2 separate regions of the Homo sapiens genome follow, and region 2 is linked to region 1. The links come from fine-mapping of genetic effects on gene expression. A gene starts in region 1. The other region holds a variant in brackets. All regions are shown on one strand. Distances are from middle to middle.

Region 1 (2,915 bases):
TTTGAGAATCAAAGTCTCCCAGGTTTTCCTTATATAATTTACAAGGACTTCCCTGGCAAACTATCCTTTCTTCTTCGTTTAAAAAATTTCACTTTATTATGTTCATCTTTGATGTGGAACATTTTTTATGGCCTTCTGCTGTGACTCATTTTGGTGCTGAGTTATCTGCTTCCTTGGAGCTCAGCCCTTCCTTTTAAGCTGTGGTATTCAGGCTCCCCAAAGTCAGCTTGCCTACGGGTAGAGATCACAGCAAAATGTGCAAATGGTATTCCAACTTCTAGGTAAAAACAGACAACTAAAATTAAAAACTCTACATCATGTAAGTCACCTGGAAAAAAAAAACAGAAAACAAAACCCGAGGGCATTTGTATATTCCTGTTAACTCTTGACTGACTAAAGGGAGTTATCTTTTCTGCAGTGATAAAAAGGTGGCCCAAGACAATCTCCCCATCTTACAAAAAGTTCTGAAGTTTTACTGTGGAGTCCAATTAAACTGGCATTTAACTTCAGAAACTACATCCCTATATAATGTAATCATCACAACCAAATACAAATTAATTAATATATATGGACAAAGTTTATAAGTTCAATATTAGAATAGGGGAAAAGGGAAGTAGGAAAAGTTTAGAGTCCTCCACGCATCCTTCATTTATCACCAAGAGATTTGCTCCTTTGCTCCTTCTGTTAGTGTAAGTCAGAATTTCTCAATTTTCAGTGTGTTTATGAATTGTTATTATTGTTTATCCCAAACACATATTTTGTCTTATAGGTGATTTAAGAGCTCTAAAAGGGACATGTTAACTATCTTCAGAAGCTCACCTCTAACAATATTTCTATACCTATATTATACAAGAAAACTAATGAAGATTGACAGTCAAATTCCTGGAGAGACCTTTGACCCTTCTCTGTCTTAAATTTTTCACTTCTGAAATAGAAAGCCGGGTCACTGGTCATCTTATCCTGCACTTTGGGCATAAAGAAGCTTAGGTCCAAAGCGCCATTACTGTACTCATGATGACCCCTTGAAGGCACATCAGTAGGGCTGTCTGGACTGTGACATGCCATCAGACATCATTTAGGGGACTTCAAGTCTGGCTTCTTGCAGAGATGCTGTGGGATGCCTCAAAAACTTCCTGCATGGCTAGTGTAACTATGGGGCTTTAGATCTTTGTTAAATACAAGCAAACATTAACAGCAGCAGTGGAGAGGATAAGTTGCCAATCCTCCCAAATTTCTTTTCCAGGCAGGGGGTTGTCCTGCCGCTCTCAGAACTGGCTGTCATCTGCTGCTCTCTTGTCACACTGACACGGCCCCCTGGCTGGGCTGATTGGTCGCTGGCAATAACTGATATGGAATACTGATGTTCTCTCCGGCAGTTCCTTCCACTCTAAAGAGACTCCTTTTCATCCCTCTTCTCGCCTTTCCTAGCCCAGCCTAGTGCCCACCCTCCCCCGACCATGCCTCCCCTGCACCTGGGGAGGGGGAGGACCAGTCCTGGGCGTGATGCTCTGAGACGGTGGTGAAATCCACCAGGCTGCTTTCACTCCGGCTCGCTCTCCGGAGAGTCCTGTTCCAGACTTCTCAGGGTTTTTACAGCACAAACAACTGCATACGGCCCGAGGGGAGGCTGAAAAGGACTTGTGTGTGGTGGTTTTATTGCCTGTCATCACTTTGCTGGCCTCCTCCCGACTGGAGCCTGGAGGTTCACAGTGGATTTCTTTCTGCCGAAGACACCAAGGCACTGAGGAAGGATCCCTTCTCCTTCTGTTGACTCTTTCTATTTTTATGGTAAGTGCTTACGTTGAATGAGCTGCTCTGTTGCTGCAGTGAACTGAACCGTTCGTTCCCCCTCTTCCCAGCTAAGCTTAGTGACCTTCCTTCTGCATTTCCTCTGTTTTCATGGATCTTGTCTGGGATGATCCAGCTTCAAAAATGCCAGGGGTCATTTGCCTGGAGTGTTTGTCTTTTTATCTTTTTTCCATAAACGTGAGCTCTTCTGCTGTGATACGAATATAAGTGCTCTGTCTTTGTCCTTGAAGCAGCAGCCGGGGAAATGTGTTCACGATGGTAAACTGCAGCAGCGTGCAGGGAATCTGTGGAGGATGACTGACAAATTTGGGCAGGATGAATCCTCAGTGTGCCAGGGGCACTCACTCAGGATCAGAAGGGCCGGGGGTGACCTGCCCACATAGCAAACTCTTCCATCTTTGTGGATAAAGATGAGCACACACGTGTGAGTTATGTTGAGTCTGCTGTGGGCAGCTGTGTTTTCTGCACCTGCCCGTGTGGGTCTGGGATGACCCTATATCTTGTGGGGTTTACAACTTGGGCAGGAACATTCTCAGCAGGAGGAATCCTGAGCTGGCAGACGGAGTAGACTGCATGACCTCATTGCTTCTTTCCCTTCTGAGTCTCAGGGTACCCAGTTCTGCAAACCATATTTTACAGGCTCTTCAGAGAGTGGTAGGGCAGTGATGACAGGAACATTTTTGAGTTGACAACATAGTTTTGTCCTCCTGCTAGGAGATAAAATACTTTGAGGTTATTAGAATGGTTAGACTTTTCTAGGAGAACATAAGCAGGTTTCTGACGAAGACTATGGATGTGGCAGATTGTTTATTCCAGGGACATTACTCTTACAATAGTGCTCTAATTTTTCACCTGGTCTCCTGAGGTTTGCTGCAAAGAGCATCACAACTTCAAGTCTATTACTGGCAGCTTCTTGACGCCCAAAGGAAACCAAGAACATTTTATTAGTTTCACTCCTGTGCGTTGCAGGAGTCTCTCTTAACAGGGATTTTTTTTTTTTTTTTTTGGTAGCAGGTGTGTCGAACTATTTTGGTCAAAGCATCATTCCAAAGAATAGCTTCGCAGTTGTAATTCTATTTAGTTATTTTCAAGTCTTGGACCGGAGG
Region 2 (2,915 bases), 76 kb before region 1:
CACAAACAGAGATGATAAGATGATGTACTGGGACAGGTCTGAACTGTTGGGGTCAGAGTTCGGTACTTAGTAGTCACCGACTTCACTAATAGAAGTGCGCAGGAGAAGGTTGCTACTCTCCCCTGTGCTTTGGTCTCACAGGCAAAGCCTTCTCCAGACTGTCCCCTGGGCTGGGAATCGCGCCCAGAGTCACGGGCGGCCAGACCCACCCCATGTGTTCCCCGGCGCGCTCTCCAGTGGAGCTTCCCTAGGAAAGGAGACCGTCCCGAGAGGCTGTGGCGCGCCTGGGACTCCCCGACCCTTGCCACGACATCCCTGCCACCCCTTTTGGCGTGAACCCACCGGGGATCCCGCCCGACGCCGGCTGCGCTGGGCCAAATCCGCGGCGCGCCTCTGCCGGGCACCTCCCACCTCCAGCTTCGCCCCTCCCCTCTCCCGGCCGCGCGTCCTCCGCGGCTGGTTCAATCCCCGCGGGGACCCGGAGCGCGGCTGCCGGTCTACGCCCTCTCTCCTGCCGCTCTCGCGGCGCAGCCCGGCCGGGGGCCCCCGCGCGCCGGCAGCTCTAGGGGCGAGCGCGGCGCGCTGACTGGGCGTGCTCAGCCGCGGAGCGCCCGGGCGCCGCTAGAGCCAAGCGCATGCACTCGCCGGGCCGGGCCGTCCAGGGGCGCAGCGCGCAGGGGGCCGCTCTAGCCGACGCCCTGGCCAGTCTGGGCAGGACGCGGGCCAGGATGGCCTCCCTCACCGCATACGGTAACTGGGGCCGTCGCGGGTTCCTGGGGCGGCGGGGCGGAAGGGAGGGGCCCAGGGAGCCGTCGAAACACCCGGGGAAACTTCGGGGTTCGCCTCTGCGGAGGGGTCTGGAAGGGAGGGAGACGGCGGCCGTGCGCGCCGCTCCTGAGGGGCCGATGTTCCGCGGGGTTTCGGGCCGCGGGTAACCCGGGAACCGGGTGTCTGCGGGAAAAACGCTTCAAAATTTGGGAGGATCTGGGAGCTTCGGGACTCTAGAAACATTCCCCTCGCTTCCGACCACTCAGGGGAAGGGACGCGGGTGTTAAGTCCTCCTCTAGCGGGGTGAGGCTTGGAGTTGGGAGATGTGCGTTCAGCCAGCGCTTATCTTGTCCCTGACTGACCTTGGGCAAGTTATTTAAACTTTTCAGCCTCTGCATTTCTCCGTCTGTAAATCAGAGAGATGAGAACATCTCTCTGACAGATGCTGTGGAGTTAAAATAATATGCACTGTAACATGTTTTTAATGCAAAAAAAGAAATCAGTTTGGAAATAAAAGTTTATGAAAAAGGAAGGCATTCATCGTTCCCCTGCCCATTGTTTTGTTAAATAAATATATATGAATAGACATATACATATATACATGTGTGGTATTGCATGGTTCTGAAGGAAAACAAAATCACTGTGTGAAGGTTTCAGGCTCAGCTAGAAATCCTAGCGCGCTGGGGAAGCCAGCAAGGCTTCTTATCAACGTTCTTGCTTGTGTGGATAAAGCAATTCTCTTTAGCCCTTTATCAGAAATACTGCTGAGACTTGGTTATAGGAAGCAGAAACTCAAGTAGACCTCCCTCCCTTCCTCTTGCTTGCAGTCAGTTGTTG[C/G]GATAAGATCTAGATTTGGCATTTTAAAGGGGAAAGCTGTGAGCAATTGATGGGGAATGTTCTGCAGGGACATCTCAAAGCCTGGGATGGGTGGGACGGAAATTACTATTCTTTGGTGTGGAATCTTCATTCTCTAGGCCAGTGATGTCCCCTGCTCATTTTACCAAGGTTAACAGGGTCAGTCTCTTTCTCTGGATTTAAATTGTTTAAAATGATCATTTAGGTGGCTCAGAGGGTTTGCAATTGATGCCTGGGAACCAGTAACAAATTGTGAGCAGATTACAAATTTCAGTCTGGTGGCCTGTTTTTTCTTTCCTCCAACCCCCTTCCCCCGTGCTCAGAACATTTTTGCTGGGATTTAAGTTGTTCTTACCTGCACGCACATTTAACACTCAACATTGTGGTTCCTGGGTTACCATCTGGGGATAATTCAATATGCTGATGGCATTTTAGGCATATTCATTGGCAAAACATCTATTTTTACACCTTTTCCTATCAGAGGGATCTAACTTCTGTTTTTTTACATCATTTTAGATTTTGTATGCTGCCCCATGGATACTGTCAGTAATAGGTTTACGTAATGATCAGTTCTGTACGTTTCTAGAAGCTTTAAAAGCTTAATTGAGCACCCAGGTGGAGAAAATGAAGTCAGAATAAGTGAAATCATTTTGAAAAGAAGTATATTTCAGTAATTAAAGGAAAAAGGTGGCAGATCTTTGTTTTTGGTGATTAAGAATTACACAGGTTTCTCATTAGACCCTTAAAGAGAACTGAAGCATATTTCAATAAAAATATCAATTAGAATTTCTGCTTGACACATTCTCCTCCTGCATCCATCCCTAAAATGATGCATATACTTGGCCACAAATTCCACGTTAATTCTTAGATCTGTAGCAGTGTGAGCTAAACCATGACAGAATAAATTAGTCCATCAGGGTTTTCAACCTAGTGAACAAGTTAAGGAGAAAAACATTGAGCACATTTAATACATTCTTCACCCACTGGATACTATTGAGATCATTATCTGATGAGAGCTTGGTCCAGCCCTGGAACCCTCCGCAAATCTTCTCTTTGACAATTGAATTCCTTGTAAAAAATGTCCCCTGTCAATTCTGTTGGATTTGGGTTTAGGCATCATGATGGGGGATGATCTAAACTTTTTGCCTGGAATTTATAGGGTTCAATTTTTGTGTTTAATTGACTGATTTAATAAATGCTTTATTCTTATCTTTAGCACAGGGGCTGCCAAGAGAATGAACAGTTACACTGTAGACCATGTGTTTTAGGTTCACAAGATGAGAGAGAAATTT

Evidence for each region. PIP is the estimated chance that this variant, and not a neighbour inherited with it, causes the effect.
Region 2: its variant is fine-mapped to the expression of ANO4 in fibroblasts (GTEx, PIP above 0.99). The same link has a PIP of 0.9 or more in testis.

The regions. Positions count from the first base shown.
Region 1 is chr12:100,793,240-100,796,154 of GRCh38, forward strand. ANO4 (anoctamin 4) reads left to right here and starts at 1,537. Exons shown (of 28, transcript NM_001286615.2): 1 at 1,537-1,788.
Region 2 is chr12:100,716,798-100,719,712 of GRCh38, forward strand. It overlaps a transcript of ANO4 not described here. Among named protein-coding and RNA genes, the nearest start is that of ANO4, 77 kb to the right of the region's middle. The variant C/G (reference allele first, on the strand shown) is at 1,606.